4 separate regions of the Homo sapiens genome follow, and all the other regions are linked to region 1. The links come from fine-mapping of genetic effects on gene expression. A gene starts in region 1. Each other region holds a variant in brackets. All regions are shown on one strand. Distances are from middle to middle. Region 1 holds the start of IRAK3 (interleukin 1 receptor associated kinase 3). Region 2 overlaps IRAK3 (interleukin 1 receptor associated kinase 3). Region 3 overlaps IRAK3 (interleukin 1 receptor associated kinase 3). Region 4 overlaps TMBIM4 (transmembrane BAX inhibitor motif containing 4).

What was found. PIP is the estimated chance that this variant, and not a neighbour inherited with it, causes the effect.
Region 2: its variant is the best candidate, but not a certain one, in a credible set for the expression of IRAK3 in whole blood (INTERVAL, PIP 0.73).
Region 3: its variant is the best candidate, but not a certain one, in a credible set for the expression of IRAK3 in whole blood (TOPMed, PIP 0.79).
Region 4: its variant is the best candidate, but not a certain one, in a credible set for the expression of IRAK3 in whole blood (TOPMed, PIP 0.50).

Annotation. Positions count from the first base shown.
Region 1 is chr12:66,187,016-66,192,166 of GRCh38, reverse strand. It overlaps IRAK3 (interleukin 1 receptor associated kinase 3), which reads right to left and starts at 2,953. Exons shown (of 12, transcript NM_007199.3): 1 at 2,735-2,953. The coding sequence starts at 2,867. RefSeq lists silencers at 2,619-2,778, 2,799-2,848.
Region 2 is chr12:66,238,236-66,243,386 of GRCh38, reverse strand. All of the region lies in intron 8 of IRAK3 (interleukin 1 receptor associated kinase 3), which reads right to left. Among named protein-coding and RNA genes, the nearest start is that of MIR6502, 10 kb to the left of the region's middle. The variant T/A (reference allele first, on the strand shown) is at 2,752.
Region 3 is chr12:66,219,000-66,224,150 of GRCh38, reverse strand. All of the region lies in intron 6 of IRAK3 (interleukin 1 receptor associated kinase 3), which reads right to left. Among named protein-coding and RNA genes, the nearest start is that of MIR6502, 30 kb to the left of the region's middle. RefSeq lists enhancers at 385-884, 885-1,386. The variant T/GTTTT (reference allele first, on the strand shown) is at 2,120.
Region 4 is chr12:66,152,428-66,157,578 of GRCh38, reverse strand. It overlaps TMBIM4 (transmembrane BAX inhibitor motif containing 4), which reads left to right. Exons shown (of 7, transcript NM_016056.4): 2 at 4,131-4,239. Among named protein-coding and RNA genes, the nearest start is that of TMBIM4, 15 kb to the left of the region's middle. The variant TTTC/C (reference allele first, on the strand shown) is at 2,366.

The sequences.
Region 1 (5,151 bases):
GGCCTAAGCAATGGCTTACCAATCAGGTTGTGCCTCAGACTCACTCCTGGGGCTTGACAAAAAATGAAAGAAGCTGGACCCTCAACCCAGACTTCCTGAATCAGCAGCTCTAGGAGTGGGACCTGCATCTGTGTATTTAAAAGACTGCATAGGTGATTTGTGTTTGTGAATGACTGGCTTACCTTATCCTGCACACACTGGTCATATCATATAGGCTGCTATATGAGCTGCCTTTGTAAACATAACCTGACACTCACCGTCATCAAGAATCACGATCGGCTCGAGAGAGCTTTACTTAGTATATTACAGTTGTTTTCTACATTTAAGCTTGGGCTGTCAGCTGTCCTGAGCATACAAAGGACTGCCTCTTTGATTCAGTCCTCTGTCACTCTCCTTCCCCTCTCGAAGGTCAAGTTTTCCCTACCTGCACCTCTTCCCCTCTTTCTCCCTTCGCTGTGCCCACAGGAAAACTCGGCATGTTTAGCACAGGCAGTTGCCTCAACACCCTGAACTGGGCTAGCCTTGCCTTCTTGCTGAGCCAAGAACTTGTGCAGCACCTGGTCAGGGCCAGCTCAGTAGTCCAGGCAGTCAGTAGGCATGACCACCTGCACAATGAATTACAGCTGAAGTATCATGGAGTAAACATTTTAGACCCTTTCCCTGTGAGAGAATGAATACACAAAGGGACAATGGCCAGCTTATATATAAAAATAGAACTCTGCAGGCAATGTACATCAACCAGTCCAAGAAACCAACCTACCGTCTACAGTATCTAACAAGTTAAACTATCAGTAACTGGGTTAAACTGTAGCAACTAGCCCAGGCAGCCAAACAAGAACCCCTGTAGCAACCTGTCTCAAATGGCCAGGACTTGAATAATTACTGACCACTTCCTCAATTTTTGCTCCTACTTCCAACTTAGGGCCAACCAGAGAAAGCCAATTATGTACCCCTAAACAAACACACAAAATACCCCCTTTTAGGTAGCTCAACTACAGCTTCCCCATATCAACAGCCTCCAATCAGGACACAGCTGAAGCCTTCTTCTCCCACCCTCCTCCATCCTCTGTCTGCTTTTGAGTCTCTGCCAAACACAAGCAATGGTGCTGGCTCCCTTGCTTTGAAAAAAATAGCTTTTGTTTGTTCTCATTTGGGTGGTCCTCATTCATTTTCACCACTAGGAAAATAGGGCTGCATGCTTGAAATGGATCACTGAATTGTTCTTTGATGCCAGAAATGTCTGTACTTTAGGGAGGCTGTTAGATGTGGCCAGAAAGAACACAGCAGTAAGGGGAGAAGTGTAGAGTAGCTGGGGTTAAGGACATAAGCCTTGGATCCAGACTACCATGGTTCAGATCCTGGCTCTTCCATTTCCAGCTGGTGAACCTGAACAAGTTACTTAACCAATTTGTACCAGTTTCCTGACCTGTTAAAAAAACACTGGCGATGATAATGACTCACAGAGTAATTGGAGAAGTTATATGAGACAAGCCATGTAAAGCATGAATATCTGGATTTCAATGCTATCAACAGAAAGAGAGAGAATAATCTGCCTCACTAATTTACCACACCCACCTGGCCCCATTCACCAACATTAAACTGGACTAAAAACACTTTTCTTTCTCAAAGTCAGTAACTCTAGGAAATCAACGGGTATAAATACTGTCCACGCCAAAATCCATCTCAAAAAGATCTGATGGGGAAGTGACCTTATCCCTCAAAATCCCTCAAATGCACACTGGAAATCTCGTTTTCTAGAAATCAGACTTTTTTTTTTTTCTTAAGGGCCATAACTTAAAATTACAGAGCTTAAAATATATAAACATTTTTTGTATAACCAGAAGCCCATTGCTACAATTCAAAGACTGTCACCATACTGTTCATCAGTAACAAAGAAAACTCTCCTCTTAGGCCTTCTGCTAGTCCTGGTAAGAAAAATCCTATTTCAGACCATTAAAGCTAAGTTATTTTGACATAATCATGATTCTTTTCAATAAACATTAAACATGACATTGTGGAATATCAAATCTAACCAAAAATGCCTGTACTTAACAAAACGAAGATTTTTGTCCGAATTATCTCTGGCTACACTCAACACTTCCAGCAGGCAGTTGCTCAACTTTCCAATGTCTGCATAAAATACAGTTCTGAAGCCAATTTTTTTAGATTAAAATAAAAAGCCACCCTTTAGCATAAACCTTCATTCAACGAAATTGGGTAAATAAGATTTAATTAAGAAAATTAGGAGCCGCGTTCATTGCAAACCGTAGTTTACTTTAGCATTTCACTTGTAATTAAGTTAGGGGCTTAGGGATGCATTGAAAACACCAAAGGATAAGTATCTCAAAGTTCTAAAAATGTCTCAATACTAAAATGATGTTCTGGGGTGATTTTGCAAGGACCAGAAGACATCATACATTGCGAACCCAGTGAGGGTGGCATCGCGGACGAACAGAAGATGCTTTCACGCTGGTTATCTGTCTTTCCCAGGCCTCGGCTCCCTTGACTTTGCAGCGATACCCAAAATTCTTTGAAAGAGAAGGGAGGGAAGGCATCTGGGTCCCAGGGAGTCTCTGCATCCAACCCAGGAAAGGAGGGGGCCGGCTCCCTGGCGGGAACTTCCCGGAGGCCGCGCCAGCCCCGCGAGGGACCCCAGCCATGCAGGGCGACGCCGAGCGGGCCCCGCGGCGCGCTGGGCTCCCCCGCCGCCCCCGGCCGGTCCCCGCCGACTCACCCAGGCCGCGCCAGCCCAGCGCGCCGTCGCAGCTGTCCAGAACAGCGCAGAGCTCTCCGAGCAGCGCGGGCGGCAGGTCGAACAGCAGCGTGTGCGCCGACAGCGCGCCGCGGGCCCCACAGTTCCCCGCCATGGCTCGGCTGCCCGAGCCCCGGGGACGAGGCGGAGTCCAGGTCCCTGCACGCCTGCGACAGGCCGTTACACAACCGCGGAAATCCTGCTTCCACGACGGCAGCAGAGCCCTAGGAACACGCCGTTCTCCGGTCACTGCAGGGGCGGTGCCCACGTGACGCAAGGCGCGCCTCGCCCGAGATGCCCCTGCGTCCGCCTGGCCAGGCCTGGGGGTTACCCGACCCGGGTTCTCCCTTCGCTGGCTTTGCGCCCCTTCACACCTCTGCGGTGGGGACGGAGCTGCCGAGACAAGCAGAGTGCGAACTGGAGAAAGCCCAGAGCTCAGAGCTCCCAGGAGCCCACCGTGCCCCACGGCTAGGCGGTCTCCTGGTGTGGACGGCTAGCGGTGTCATTACTTCTTACAAAAGTTTATTTTTGAAAGCTTCTCCCTTCCTTCCTTCTTCCCTTCCTTTCTTTTCTTCCTTTTTTCTTTGTTTTGAGTCAGGTTCTCACTCTGTCGCCCAGGCAGGAGCGCAGTGGCGCTATCTCAGCTCACGGAGCCTCCACCTATTGGGCTCAAGCGATCCTCCCACCTCAGCCTCCCGAGTAGCTGGGACCACAGTCGCACGCCACCACGTCCGGCTAATTATTTTTTTTCGTTTTTCGTAGAGAGGGAGTGTCGTTATGCTGCCCAGGCTGGTTTCAAACTCCTGGCCTCAAGCGATCCTCCCACCTCCGGCTTCCCAAAGTGCTGGGATTCGGGGTGTTAGCCACTGTCCCGGACTACTTCTTTTTTATCCTGTCAGAAAAACTATCCATGTTCATCGAGGAACACTTGGAAAACCCAGAAAAAAACTGAAAAAAGAAGATAATCACTCACAACCCCACTCAGCCCATCACACTCTAAAAGTTTTGACACATTTTCCTCCCAACTTTTACTGAATTTAAACAGATAAAAATGTACATATATGGGATTATTATTGGAAAAGATGAATGTAGATACCAACAAGAGAAAAACAGAAAAGACACCAAATCAGCGTAAAATTATGTTCGTTTTCTTCACGAGGCGGCCTCTCCTCCATACACCTACTTGGTTTTAATAAATTTTCTTCCTCATGGGCTTCCTTGATGAAATATCGTTCCATCATTTTTTCCTTCCTCAAAGTGCTTCACACAATCTTCCTTTTTGCCTTCAACATGGAGTTTAAGTAAAATTGTTGTTTTGAAATCTTCACGGAGTTTAAGTAAAATTGTTGTTTCAAAATCTTCTAGGTCACATGAGGCATGTTACCAGTGACAAAAAGTTGTTTTGAAAGTGGTGAGAAAAATCTCAGCCTTAGTGACTGGAAGAGTGGGCAGTGGCCATCAAGTGAAAACACCAGAGGTGTTTTGAAACCTCTCAGATTGTAGTCTTTGGAATAGCTGCCCCTAGAGATCACGAGTGATGAAACACTATCATTTCATGCCCCTACCTGAATGGTTTTGCCAGCGAAAATACTTCATAAAAATGTATCTGAAAACTGGCAAAGCCCATACTGTGTGGGCAAGAATTTCGATATCCCGTTGTTCAAGGTTTTATTGTCAATCTGTACACACTGTACACCTACCTACCTTCCTTCCTTCCTTCCTTCCTTCCCTCCTTTCTTCCTTCCTTCCCTCCTTTCTTTCTTATTTGTTTTTTTTAGTCGCTCTGATTGCCCAGGTTGGGGTGCAATGGTGCGATCTCGGCTCACTGCAACTTCCACCCCCTGGGCTCAAGCCATCCTCCCACCTCAGCCTCCAGTACAGCTGGGACTACAGGTGCATGCCACCATGCCTGGCTAACCTTTGTAGTTTTTGTAGAGACGGGGTTTTCCCATGTTGCTCAATCTGGTCTCAAACTCCTGGGCTCAAGTGATCCACCTCCCTAGGCCTCCCAAGGTTCTGGGATTACAGGCATGAGCCACCACACCCGGCCCTCTATACATCTCTTAAAGGGACTACCTGAACATGCTGAGCAACAGAGGCAAAAGGCCATTAATTATTTGGTAGCTTTTGAATTGCTACTACAGGGAGGCAAACTCACTCAGAGGAAACAGGAAATCACTGCAGATGAGGGAAGCAATCAGAAAGGCCTGCTTTACCAGATCTTGTAATTTACCAAGAAGCAAGGATCCTAAGTGAAAGCTAGAGTATGTGAAATTTCCTGTATTTTCAGTGTTGGCAGTCGTTCTCAGACCATGTTGCCTTCCTATTCCTAAAACTGTCTTGAGTTTTGATTTTTATATCATCAGGTTGTATCATCATGGTTGCTATCAACTGCTGAT
Region 2 (5,151 bases), 51 kb before region 1:
TACTAAAAGTGCTACAGCAACAGCCACGGGATATCAAGAAGTTCTTAATTCTGAACAAATTTTGGATCTTACAAAAGCTCCAGAAGTCTTTGCTATCCCTATACAGGTAGGTTAACGGGCAGGCCCCAGTTCCATAGGTCTGAACTGCAAGTGTTCTTACTGTTCAGAGGACTCAGAGTCCTACTTCTATTTAGAGAGTTTGGGGGAAACAGTTCAATGTATGAAGCTAAGGCCTTAAAGATTCTAGTCCAGACTTTGTCTAGGGCTGAGTTGACAACAGAAAAAACAAAGGCACTTCCGGTGGTCTTTTTTTTTTTTTCGAGACAAAGTTTCATTCTTGTCCCCCAGGCTGGAGCGCATTGGCACGATCTCAGCTCACTGCAACCTCTGCCTCCCGGGTTCAAGTGAGTCTCCTGCCTCAGCCTCCTGAGTAGCTGGGATTACAGGCGCCTGCCACTACACTCGGCTAATTTTTAGTAGAGATGGAGTTTCACCATGTTGACCAGGCTGGTCTTGAACTTCTGACTTCAGGTGATCCACCCGCCTCGGCCTCCCGAAGTGCTGGGATTACAGGCATGAGCTACTGCGCCCAGACCCCGCGGTCTTTTAAGGATAAAGACACATTTTAAACTTTATTTCACTCCTCCTTCCGCTAAGGGTGGCAAGGGAATTGTAAAATCCAAAAAGCCCACCTTCTGAGCTCTAGGGCCTCTTATCAGCTGTGTGCTCTTAGCATTTATGGAAGGAAGGTCAGAGAGGCCTGGTTCCCAAGGCTCGTATCAATGAGCACAGTTGTCATTTCTCTCCTTGCCTTCTCCCTTCTCCCTGGAGAACCCAGCAGCTGCTAAAGCCAGCCTGGGCCTCACACACCCCCATCTGTCACTCCTCACCCACTCTTACTTTCTCACTTGGAGAACTGTTGACTATCCTGACATACCTCAGATGAGGAACAGACTAGAGTCAGATCCGACTTCTCTCCAGCTCTAGATAAGAAGAGACTGTCAGTTCATAATCACTTCTTCCCTAGGTTGACTCTTCAATGGATCAGATCAAGTCTGAGGCTCCTGGAGATGCCCTGAGGGTTTCAGAGTCCTGGGGGCATTTGAATGCAGGAGTTTGCCGGTGGGCCAGGAGGCGAGGTGGGAAAAAAAGGTTCTCCAACCTTCATTGCCAGGACCCCACCTTCTGCCCTTCAACTTTGGAGTCACTTCTGCATGCCCCATTTCATTTCAGCACAGGGGGAGGGTGGGAATGTTCTGAATGGCAGATATTCAATGTCAAACACCTAAACATCTTCCTCTATCACAGCTCTAAAAAAAGGCATAGAATTATAATTGACAATGCCAGAATCATGAGACTGCAAAAGCTGAATTTTTGAAACACACACACACACACAAAAAAACCCTGAATCTTTTAAGTACAAAAAGGGAGAAAAGAGCAACAGTAATAACAACAAAACCTTCAATCTAATTCTTTATTTGACCCATAGCAAAGCTGGTGGGATGCTTTCAGCAAATGGTGAGTCAGCTTCTGTGAAAGTTGGGCAGAAGGGAGTTGAGTAACCACAAACAATGCTTACACCATAAAACCCAGAGAGGACTTTGGGTCAGTGAAAGGCCATCAACAAGATGTGAAATTATTCTAGGGTACTGAATTTACAATTTGAATAATGACAATCGGTGAAAAGATAAGTCGTTTTTCAGCTGACTTTAGTGTATAACATAAATTTTGAGTCCAGTGATTTATTCTGTTCTAAATAAAGGTTAGCGGTAGCTGAGGAAGAAGGATGTTCTGTTTTAGGAAAGCGGAAATTGCAAAAGGCCCTTCAACGATCAATTTCTACCTTAATTCTTTTCCCCTGCTTCAACCTTAAATAGAATGTTCAAACACAAAGTGTCTTCAGCTTCCATGCAGGTCAGCTGAGTAAGTTAATCCTGTGGGGTGAAAATAAACTAACAAAATTAAGAACCTAACACAACTACAGTCATGGCAATATCATGCAAAAGGGCAGCCTGCAAGCAACTGTGGCCACCAAAGAGATAGATAAAAGACATCTTTGACCCATATCCATGGTTCATATCCTCAATTTCATGCTTCTACAATCGATTTGTTCTACTCTTTATCACAAGGCTATTTACCTTAACAGAGAGGCCATCCCCTCTCCAGATAATTCCTTTAACAGAATGATCATTGGTTGTACACTGAGGAAGTATGGAGAATCCTACACAGATGATGAGTTTGTAACCTGACTCTAGGATGTTACTTAATCTCTCTATTAGTAGGGGTCTCTAGGACAATTTTCGGGGGGACCTGAATCCCCCAAACAAATGCTACTTTGTAATGAGAATTGCTTTCTTTGCTCACCAGTTTATCTCCTAATTAAGTTCAATCCCTTGGACCTTAAACATAAGACAAGATGCTCCACCTAGATTATAATGCAGGATTTGAATTCAAGTGAAAATACCATATTTGGCATGAAAGAGCATGATTGGTTTTTAAAGAGAGAGAGATATATATACCCACATATATATAATATATATACCGATATATTTTATATATATATATATGTGGGTATATATATAGTATATATATGGGTCCAGCAGTCCAGCGCCTGGGTGCCTGGAAACTCTCAGGAAAGGCCAGGACTCCACAGAAGGACCTGGGGAAGAGGGGGCAGGGAGCCACAGATTGGCTCCAGAGATAAAGAGGACCCAACGGCCCCTCTGGGACAGCCTGAGGCAACAGCACACA[T/A]GTGCTGTCTGTATTACGGCTGTTGCAACACTGAGACACCCCTCACCAGATGCCCTGCCTCCCCTAACCAGATGAGGCAAGACTCAGTTTCTCCTAGAACCTGCAGGCTACTAAAACAGTTGTGCACCCCACCCCAACTTAAGTGTGCACTGCATCCTGCCTGGAATGCTACAAATCTGAAACCCTTTATTCCCCTGTGGGACTGCGGAGCTTTCTTTTTCATCCCCACTGAACCTAGGCAGGTCTGAGAGACACAGTATTCAAGCTTGTTTTTGCTTGTTGGTGCCTTCTGAGTCTAGGCACTCGGTGCAAAGGCCCAGTAATGGGTGTTCCTCCTTTAATTGTGAAACTCCAAATCTACCCACAACTAGCACAACCCCCCTAAGCCTGTTTCCCTGTTGGTATAAAGATCTGATACTGCTTACTTCACGGGGTTCTTACCAGTATTAAATGAGAAAACGTAAGGAGTGACACTCACAGAGGGCTCAAAGTATGCTTTAAAGGATATAGGCTGGCCATTGTCCATCCTATGTCCATTACCTTACCTTAAAATCCCAAAAGGCTTGGTTGCATGTCTCTAGAAGTCCAAAGACACCAACTCAAGGAACAAAAATACAGGGGGTTGTAGGATGTCCCTGGAAATCTGAGGACCCTTCAGTTAGTTAATGCCAACAAATTGGCTGAGTTTCAAATAGTTCCAGGAAGTTCTGGGCAAACGTATTTTCCAGACATTTTAAGACAATGGAGAGACAGAAAAAAACTGGCATGTACCGTGCATATGTGTATGTATCTATGTATATAAGTAAATGAATGTTGGGGATTAGAGTGGTGGCAAATAGAATTAATAGGGGAAATTTTAATTTATGTCATATTTAATTGTTTTGGCATCCCTTAGAAAAAATCATATTTGGATATTTTAGAAGAGGGGAGGCACTGGGGGAAAACAGGAAAAATCTGAGGAAAAAGAATTATATATATCTAAAATTTTTCTGAAAGATAAAAATAGGCTTTTTGAGGGGGTTATGAGGGAAAGGGAGGAGACTGATTAAAGAATCTTATCAGTCAAACAAAGAAAGACACTTTGCATTCCCTGTAGGCTTTGACATGCCTGTTAAACACTGAGCTGGGCTCCAACCTTCCCGTCTGGGGATAAAGGCAGGAGGAGCCTGGGTCTTCAGGCAAGGGTGTCCTGGTGGCAGGGAGGGGCCAATCTGTGGCCCCCTATGCCCTCTTCCCAACCACTCAGTTTTTCTAGTCTTTTGGAGAGGAAATTACCCATGCACTCACTCACTCTGACCTTACATCTCTGATCAATTTCCATTAAAAAAAAAAAAAAGTCCATTTTGAAGCAAATGGCTTCTTCTTTGTTTCTTTCCTAGACCATTTCCCTTGTATGAAAGACTGTTTCACTTGGCAGGAGACAAATGGCAATACTGATTAAAGAACATGATTTTATAGGAAACATTAGAAATGTTCACCAAGATTATCTCTTTGCTTTGGAAACATTAGCAGGAATGAAATGTCTGGGATGGAAAATGCTAAGGATAAAATGCATTTCCATTTAAAATAGTTCATAAATGTGAAAACAATTAAGCTCACTAAGGGCTAGGAGGGAAATAACAAGGAAGTTTACTGCCTTCAGATGCTTTTAAGTGATCCTGTAAGTCAAAAACATCTTCGTTTCTCCAATAAAAATGTGAGGGTCTTTGGCCAAGAATATAGGCTGCAACTTTTCAAGATTCTTTTCTTTAAGTCCTTTCCTTCTCAAATTCCACCACCTGGAAGCAGGTTTTGTTTTTATAACATTCTCTTTGAAGAGTTCAAATTACTAAGACATTTTTTAGCTAAATAAACCCCCAGACTTGTTGAAAACACCTTGGAAACATGGGCACTGCTTCTCCTGTGGGTGTTTCTGAGCTGTGTCTTTGACAGCTTCTTCCTTAGAAAGCTATCTACTCTCACCGCTTTCCAGGCCCGATCTCCTCTTCAATGCCTCTTGCTTCTGCCAGGAGTCCAATGTCAGCATTTCCAAGTTTCTGCACACTAATTATGCTCTCCTCTCCTTCCCAATTTCCCTGTCTCTGCTGATGACGCCAACATGCTTCCATTAATCCCAGACCTTTAATTCCTTAAAAAGTGCATGATGATTGGACTCACACAAACATGGAATGCAACCTCCCTTTTCCCTTCTACAGCCATGAGACAGAGGCCAGTCACTAATCTCTGTAAGCCTCAGCTTTCTCCTCTATCAAATGGAGATAATAACTGTAATACCTGAACTCAGGCTTGCTGGGAGGATTGCTAACAAGTTATTCAGCAGGCGTTGATGCCAGGTGAAAAGTCTCTGGCTCTCATTGAGCTCTCTCATCTGACTGCAGTCTATCTGCTACCCTTAAGGTA
Region 3 (5,151 bases), 32 kb before region 1:
CTTGAAACAGGGCCTAACACAAAATAAATATTAGCAAAATAAAAATGGTACCCCAGGAATAGCCAACATTATAAAATTGTAAATATCTCCAGATTAATCTATAAAGTTATTAAAATTGCATTAAAAATGCCGATAGAATTTTTGAAACCTAGACAAGCTGTTGTTGTAGTTCACAGAAAACACCTCACCAGACAAATAAATGGATCAGACAAATAAATGTAAAAAATGAAACCATGAAAGTACTGGGAAAAAATGGGAGAATTATTTTATTAGATTGGTGCAAAAATTACTGCGGTTTTTGCCCAGCTACTCGGGAGGCTGAGGCAGAAGAATGGCGTGAACCCAGGAGGAAGAGCTTGCAGTGAGCTGAGATGACATCACTGCACCCCAGCCTAGGTGACAGAGCAAGACTCCGTCTCAAAAAAAAATAAAAATAAAAAAAAGTAATGTTTACTTTTAATGGCAAAAACCATGATAACTTTTTTTTTTTTTGAGACGGAGTCTCGCTCTGTTGCCCAGGCTGGAGTGCAGTGGCGTGAACTCAGCTCACTGCAAGCTCTGCCTCCTGGGTTCACGCCATTCTCTAGCCTCAGCCTCCCGAGTAGCTGGGACTACAGGCGCCCGTCACCATGCTTGGCTAATGTTTTGTATTTTTAGTAGAGACGGGGTTTCACAGTGTTAGCCAGGATGGTCTTGATCTCCTGACCTCATAATCCGCCTGCCTCGGCCTCCCAAAGTGCTGGGATTACAGGCGTGAGCCACCGCGCCTGGCCTCAAACCATGATAACTTTTAATGGCAAAAACTATAACATAAAATCTGGAATCCGCAAAAGAAAACATTGATAAACTTAACTGTCAGGCCTCTGAGCCCAAGTTAAGCTATTGCATCCCCTGTGACCTGCATGTATACATCCAGATGGCCTGAAGTAACTGAAGAATCACAAAAGAAGTGATATTTAAATGGCATGTTCCTGCCTTAACTGATGATATTCCACCACAAAAGAAGTGAAAATGGCCGGTCCTTGCCTTAACTGATGACATTACCTTGTGAAATTCCTTCTCCTGGCTCATCCTGGCTCAAAAAGCTCCCCCACTGAGCACCTTGTGACACCCCACTCCTGCCCCACAGAGAACAACCCCCCTTTGACTGTAATTTTCCTTTACCTACTCAAATCCTATAAAACGGCTCCACCCCTATCTCCCTTCGCTGACTCTCTTTTCGGACTCAGCCCGCCTGCACCCAGGTGATTAAAAAGCTTTATTGCTCACACAAAGCCTGTGTGGTGGTCTCTTCACACAGACGCGAGTGAAATTACCTATATTAAAACCATTTCTACATGTCAAAACTATAATAAGCAAAGATGAAATGACAGTATGGTAAAAAATTATTTGCGTCTCATAACATAAAAATAGGCTGATTTTCTAATAGGAATTATAAAATATTCCTTTGAACCACTAAAAAAAGCCTAATTTTAAAAAATAGGTAAGGAATATTATAAGCTACTTCATAGAAAATAAAATATATCTCTTAAATATATAAAAGGATTATTAATATCTCTCAGAAAAATTGATACTATGAGACTTGTTTTTTTGAGAGGCCTCAAATAAATAAAATATAAATGAAAGAGGCGACATTACAACTGATACCACAGAAACACTAAGGATCATAAGAGACTATTATGAACTATCGTATGCCAACAATCTGGAAAACTTAAAAGAAATAGATGGATTCCTAGAAACATACAATCCACCAAGACTGAATCATGAAGAAATAGAAAACCTAAACAGACCAATAACAACCAAGGAGATTGATTAAATAATCAAAAACCTCCCAACGAAGAAAAGTCCAGGACCATAGAGATTCTGGGTAAATTCTAACAAGCATTTAAAGAAGAATTAATACTAATCCCTGTCAAAATCTTTTAAAAAATTAAAGACGAGGGAACACTGTCAAACTTATTTTAGTAGGCCAGCATTACCCTCATATCAAAGCCAGATAAGAACACAATGAGAAAACGTTATATGCCAATATCCATGATGGCCATAGATACAAAAATCCTCAACAAATTTAGCAAGCTAAATTCAACAGAACATTTTTTGTTTGTTTGTTTGTTTGTTT[T/GTTTT]TGGAGATCGAGTCTTGCTCTGTTGCCCAGGCTAGAGTGTGGTGGCATGATCTCAGCCCACTGCAACCTCCGCCTCCCGGGTTCAAGCAATTCTTGTGCCTCAGCTTCCTGAATAGCTGGGATTGCAAGCGTGCACCACTACACCTGGCTAATTTTTATATTTTTAGTACAGATGGGGTTTCATCATGTTGGCCAGGCTGGTCTTGAACTCCTGACCTCAGGTGACCCACCTTCCTGGTCTCCCAAAGTGCTGGGATTACAGGCATGTGCCCCTGTGCCCAGTCTTCAACAGAACATTAATAGGATGAAATACCAGAGTCAAACAGGACTTATCCCTGAGAAGCAAGGATGGTTCAACATGTGCAAATATGTAAATGATACACCATATTAACAGACTGAAAAATAAAAATCACAAAACCATCTCAACAAATGCAAAAGCATTTGATAAAATTCAACATCCTTTCATGATAAAAACTCTCAACAAATTAGGTATAGAAGGAATGTATCTCAATGTAATAAATGCCATATATGACAAACCCACAGCTAACATCATACCTTAACAGTGAAAAGCTGAATGCTTTTCCTCTAAGTTCAGGAAAAAGATAAGTGTGCCCACCCTTTCCATTTCTATTCAAGATAGAGCTGGAAGTCCTAGCCAGAGCAATTAGGCAATAAAAAAGAAATAAAAGCATCCTAATTGGAAAGGTGCAAGTTAAAGGTGGCTCTGTCTACAGATGACATGATGAAAACCCAAAAGACTCCACCAAAAAAACTGTTAGAACAATAAACAAATTCAGAAAAGTTGCATAATACAAAATCAACATATAAAAATCAACTATGTGTCTATATGCTAACAATGAACAATCTGAAAAGGAAATTAAGGAAATGATCCTATTTACAACAGCATTAAAAAGAATAAAACACTTAGGAATAAATTTAACCAAGGAGGTGAAAATTTTGTGCGTTAACAACTATAGGACACTGATGAAAGAAACTGAAGAAGACACAAATAAATGGAAAGATGCATTACATACCTGAATTGAAAGAATTAATATTGTTAAAATGTCCATACTACTCAAAGTGAGCTACACATTCAACACATTTCTATCAAAATTCCAATGCCATTTTTCACAAAAATAGAAGAAAAATGCTAAAATTTATATAGAACCATGAAAGACCCAAAACAGTAAGTGAGTTTAAGAAAGAAGAACAGGCCGGGCGCGGTGGCTCACGCCTGTAATCCCAGCACTTTGGGAGGCCGAGGCGGGCGGATCACGAGGTCAGGAGATCGAGACCGTCCCGGCTAAAACGGTGAAACCCCGTCTCTACTAAAAATACAAAAAATTAGCCGGGCGTAGTGGCGGGCGCCTGTAGTCCCAGCTACTTGGGAGGCTGAGGCAGGAGAATGGCGTGAACCCGGGAGGCGGAGCTTGCAGTGAGCCGAGATCCCGCCACTGCACTCCAGCCTGGGCGACAGAGCGAGACTCCGTCTCAAAAAAAAAAAAAAAAAAAAAAAAGAAAGAAGAACAAAGCCAGAGGCATTCACGTCCTGATTTCAAACTATATTACAGAGCTATAGTAATAAAAACAGTATGGCACCGGCATAAAAACAGACTCATTGACCAATGGAATAGAATTTAAAAAAAAAAATAACAGAAATAAACCTACATATATATCATCAACTAATCTTTGAAAAGGGCACCAAGAATATACAACAGAAGAAGAAAATTATCTTCAATAAATGGTGTTGGGAAAACTGAATACCCACATACAAAATAATAAAATTGGACCTTTGTCTTACACCATATACAAAAATTAACTCAAAATGGATTAAATACTTAAATGTAAGATCTGAAACCATACAAATCTGGAAGAAAACATAGGGAAAATTTACCTTGACATTGGTCTTGGCAATGATTTTTTGGCTATGACACAAAAAGCATAGGTGACAAAAGCAAAAATGAACAAGTGGAACTATATCAAACTAAAAAGCTTCTGCACAACAAAGGAAACAATCAACAAAATGAAATGGAAACCTATGGAATGGGAGAAAATACTTGCAAACCATATATCTAATAAGGTGTTAAGATACAAAATAGTGAGGAACTCATACAATTCAATAGCAAAAAAGCAAATAACCTGATAAAAATGGGCAAATGACCCAAAGAGATAGTTTTTCAAAGAAGACATACCAATGACTAAGAGGTATATGAAAAGATGCTTAACATCACTAATCATCAGAAAAATGCAAATCAAAACCACAATGAGATATCACCTCACACTTATTAGGATGGCTATTATCAAAAAGACAAGTGATACAAGAGTTGCTGAGGGTATGGAGAAAAAGAAGTCCTTGTATGCTGTTGGTTGGAATATAAAGTGGTACAGCCATAATGGAGGTTCCTTAAAAAACTGAAAATACAACTACCATAAGATCCAACAATCTCACTTCTGGGTATGTATTAGTCCATTTTCATGCTGCTGATAAAGACATACCTGAGACTGGGCAATTTACAAAAGAAAGAGGTTTAATGGGCTTACAGTTCCATGTGGCTGGGGATGCCCCACAATCATGGTGGAAGATAAAAAGCACATCTCACATGGCGGCAGACAAAAGAACAGAGCATGTGCTGAGAAACTCCCCTTTTTAAAACCATCAGATCTTGTGAGACTTATTCACTATCACAAGAACAGTATGGGAGAAACTGCCCCCGTGATTCAATAATCTCCGACCAGGTCCCTCTCACAACACATGGGAACTATGGGAGTATATTCAGGATGAGATTTGGGTGGGGACACAGAACCAAACCATATCAGGGTACGTATGTAAAAGAAATAAAATCAGTATCTCAAAGAGATATCTGCACTCTCATGTTTAATGCAGCATTATTCACAGTAACCAAGACATAGACACAACTTAAATGTCCATTGACAGAGGAATGGATAAAGAATAAAGTGTGAGACACACACACACACACACATACACACACACACACACGATGGAATATTATTCAGCCATAAAAAGAAGAAAA
Region 4 (5,151 bases), 35 kb after region 1:
TTAGGTGTTTGGTATGGCAGCGCCCCACTTCCAAGTACCAAGATATATATTCTGTTTGTGTCACAAATTACCCTAAACCTTATTGGTTTAAAAGAATAAACATTATCTCAGTTTCTGAGAGTCAGGAATATGGGTAGTTTTAGTTTAGAGTTTGTCCTAGGTTGTGGTCAAGATATTGGCTAGTGCTGGTCATCTGGAGGCTTGACTGGGGGTGAAGGATGTGCTCCCAGGCAGGCTACTCACAGGGCTATTCATAGGAGTCCCTAGTTTCTCACTGGCTGTTGGCAGGAGACCTCACTTTCCTCCCACATGTGTTTTTCCATAGGGTGCCCTTAGTTTCCTCACAACATAGCTGGCCTTCCCTGAGTATGCATTCTTAATGGGGTGCTATTGACCCCATTAGATGATAGTTGGATGTAAAGATCTAAAAAAAATCTTAAGATTTTATAATGGTGTATATCCTTCCAAAGGGCGATGGTACAACAGATATATAGTATATTTGTGGCATTAAAATTTTATTGAGGGGGCTATTAGGAAAAAAGTACCTAGAAGGCTACTTAGGCGGGGAATAATGAAAACAAGGTTGAGAAACACTGTCCCAGAGGAAATGATCCAAGAAAGAGCAGGAGGAAGCCATAATCCCTTTTATGACTTGGTCTTAGAAGTAGCACCCTGCCACTTTTGCATCATTCTTTTTGTTAGGACTCACTTGAAGGGAGTGTCAAAGAACTGTGACTTACCATAAACCACTACTTCATGTAAAGAATGATAAGGGCATTCCAAGTAGAGGAAAGAGCAAGTGCAAAGGCCCTGAAGCGGGAAAGTGACTAATGTGGGTAAAGCATGGTGAGGAAGAGAGAGAGTGCTGAGATGAGATTGGAAAGGTTCTACATCATGTGGGACCTTGTAGGTCCTATAAAATCTTTCACATTTTATTTTAAGTGGAACGATTATTTAAGTATTTAAGCAGAGTCACATGATATGGTTTACTTTACATAAAAATCACTTTGACAGAGTGTGTGGAGAAATAGGTGGGACAAGAGTGAAAGCATGGGGACCAATCAGAAGGTTCCTCCAGTGGTCCAGGTGAGAGATTAGGCACACTTTGACTAGGGAGGTAACAGAGGAGACCAAAAGAGGCAGATACGTTGTACTTTCAAAGGTAGAACTACAGTAGTTGCTGATAGATTGGGAACAGGGAGGGGGTAATCAAAGATGACTTCTATGTTTTTGGCTTGGATGATGTTGGTGCTGGTTATCGATGAGAACACTGGGAGAACAGCAAATTTGGATAAATGAAGAGCTCCAGTTTTGGCCATGTTAAGTTTTGAGATGTCAAATAGAAGGGAAGAAATCAGGACTCAACAAAAATTGGAAAATCTTGCTGTTTGACTAGTATTCTTTTCATATTGAATCTTTTATATTTTCCTGAAAGCTGTATATGCATGTCCTTTGCTACTTTTTATATTATTCACAATGGGTGTCAATACTGCTTTTGCCTGGGATTTGGCTTATGATACTAAAGTATAGAAAAAGTTATGGTCTGGAATATCTGCATAAGGAGAATTTTTTAGTATGAACTTAAAGGCTTAGCACGAGTTTCTTTAAAATGTTTTTAATTGCAATAGTAATACATACTGCTGGTATCTAAAAAATACAGATTAGTAAAGAACTGAATATGAAAATTATCCTTAGTACTACTGCCCAGGGTATACGAACACCTGGATGTATATTATTCTAGTCTTTTATTACATATGCACTTGTGTACATATATACAAATAAACATTAGATCTTAATGTGCACATTGTTTTGAACTGTAAATCAGTTTTACAAAATGGTAAGAAATAACACTAATTTCCACTGCTTGAGAGAATATATATCATATGGATTGGGTTTGAGTTATATGAGGTACATAATAGGGTATCAAAAGTAAAGAATACATTCCAGGGCCAGTCACGGTGGCTCCTGCCTGTAATCCCAACACTTTGGGAGGCCAAGGTGGGTGGATCACTTGAGCCCAGGGGTTCAAGACCAGCCCGGGAATGTGGTAAAACCCCATCTCTACAAAAAAATTAGCTGGGCGTAGTGGCATGCACCTGTAGTACTAGCTACTGGGCAGGCTGAGTTAGGAGAATTGCTTGAGCCCTGGAGATTGGGGCTGCAGTGAATCATGATCATGCCACTGCACTTAAGCCTGGGTGACAGAGTGAGACCCTGCCTCTCTCTCTCTCTCTCTCTCTCTCACACGTGTGCACACACACCCCATCCTGGTGTGGGCCTGTATTCCCAGCTGCTTGGGAGGCTGAGTCTAGAGGATGGCTTGAATCCAGGACATGGAGGCTGTAGTGTAAAGAATATGATTTTT[TTTC/C]TCATAGCCCAGAAAATCCCTTGCAGGTGTAATGGCTTGACCTTTGGTTTAATAATTAAATTTGCAGAAAGATATCCCAAATAACATTGTCCATGCCAGTAGTATATTCTTTACTCTGCTTTTATGAAAAAGATAGAAATGACCTCCCAAAGCATTCAGACATCAGGGCCTTTTTGAGAAAGTAAGTCATAGATCTGTTGTGGAGTTGAGAACTGTTTATCTCTAAGCCAAAATACAATGGACACTCAGTGTTCTTATGAGTCAGTGGTTAAATCATATGCCCAGTAAAATCTGTTTAGGACATCAGGAAAAACTCACTCTAGATTTTGGAAAGAGTGCCAGAGGGAAAAATTAAGTTTAATATTTAGGCATTTTGATTATTAAATCCTTAGTATTCATGAAAATTCCCTTATTCCTGTGAAAGATTTTGTTTTTTTAACTTGATATTTGGCTGACATGCCATCAAAGCACTTCACCCTTCCTTGGAAAGCCAGGTCTTTAGTAGGAATGTTTTTCAAAAGGAACATCCACCATCTAATGCTCATCTACCATGAGCATTGCCATGATAGGCAAGAGACAACATCACATTTTCTTTTGTTGGGTAAAAGTCATTCAACATGATTTTTATTGCCTGCCTAAGCACAGTCCTCTAAGCAGTGGCTCCATTATTCTGTTTCATTTCAGAATAATACTTTTTCTCTTCCCTGACTAGTAAAATTTACCCTTCATAAATTTAATGAAAGTTTATTTAAAAGCAAATAAAATTTAACGACTGTTTATGCAATGCCATCCACTAGGCTGAGTGGTGGGGGTAAGGAAATGAATTAGGCTTCTTCCCAATTATTAGGGAGCTTTCGGTCTTTACAGTCTAATGGGGGTGAAGGACAAGTAGACTTATCAATTATAAAGTGATTAATGGTATGTTTAGGGTTCCTCAGGAACATGAAGGAGAAACATCTAATTCAGAATGCGGAACTGAGAAAGGCTGCATCTTGAAAGATGATTTGTAGTTAGCCGGAAGTGTGAAGGGAGAGGGATATCACAGAGAGAAGGTGGGAACTGTTATTAATGTTTTATTTCTGAAGGTGGTAATGAGTTCTTGGAAGTTCATTGTATTATTTGTATCACTGTATATCAGAAGACTTTAATAATAAGCATTGAATCATTAAGCCTTAGAGGTGATTTCTGGGTATTGATAACAAAATATGAAAGGATTTTCTATTGTATAGAAACTAGAGGCAGGGGTACTATAAATGAGAAATAATAATAGATGAGTGAAAGTAAGTTTATATATTACTTGCCTTTTCAGGATAAGTTTCATTTGGGGGAAATAGTTTTACTATTTTTGAAATTAAGACATAAAAAAACTTAACGTTTATATGCTTTCTATTTCTCCTTTTCAGATTCAAGATATAATCATTCTTTTAAAATGTTCTGCTTTTAGTCTTTTGCTATGTTGTATCCTGCTGTGTACAACTAGGCATTTAATACATTTTTCATTTTGATGAAAACATTTACATTTTGGCCCACTAATTTTTTTTAGGCTCATGCTTTTTGGAGAGAGGTTTAGATATCTCTTACAATTTTTAAATTATTTTGGAAGCTTTGTATTCTTGTCTAGTTTTAGTTATACATTACATTATTAGGAGGAAAATTAGGAAAGAATACGTGTAAAAAACAATTTTTTAAAGAGGAAATTTGATTTTACTGTTCTATGATAAATGGTTAAGAAAATAGTAATGTAATTTTTTTTCTCTTTTAGCCTTTCTGAGAAAAGTCTACAGCATTCTTTCTCTGCAGGTTCTCTTAACTACAGTGACTTCAACAGTTTTTTTATACTTTGAGTCTGTACGGACATTTGTACATGAGAGGTAAGGTAATGAGATGGTAATGAATAATTTTCAGACATTGCATATGATCAAAAAGGCATATTATAAACAAAATCCACTTTTTTCTATTAACTTTTGAGGTTAAAATGTAAAAAAGGTTCATTTACTCTTATAAGCCTGATTAGTTTTGTTTTTGATGAAGAAAAATACTCCACAACATGGTATTTACCTCTGAACTTTTTAGCTTTAGTTTCTTAGGGTTAAACCCTTGGTAAAAATTAAGAATTTTTACTGCATGCCATTTTTAAAAGTCTTAAGTTTTAAAAACTTTATTAGACTATATTCCCTGTGCTCAAAGCCTAAGACAGTACTTGAAAAATAAATGTGCGTTCATTTTAGTTTTGGCTCATGACTAGCATAATTTCACCAAGAAGTTTTCAAAAGAGCTCCACATGATTCATCCCTGATCTTTAATCAGGGATGAATCATAATTATTTCCATGATACAGTTTTGTTATATTAAAGGAAAGGAGAACTAATGAATATTTTCATAGAAGTAGAGAATTTCTGTCCTCCCTTCCCTTCTCCCCACCAAAGGGGAGTCTTGAACTATTAGTTTGCTATGTGAGGTAAAATTCTTTAATTTAAATTACAGCCATATGGCAAATATCCTAAGAAAGTAGTTGTTATTTTTAAATTTCTTTATTGTATAATATTAGTATACTAATTGCAAACATTATTCAAATGTGATAGAAGTTTATATGGTAAAAAGAAAAAGTTTCCCCCATTCATTTTGGGCTCTTTTCTTTGTCTTGAGGCTCCTTTCTACCTTGTACTCCTCAAATTTTCCAGATATAAAATAATTTGATAGTTTGGTGTGGATCATTCCAGATTTTTTCCCCTGTACTTTCATAAACATATAAAATAGATAAATTTTATTAAATTTGATAATACT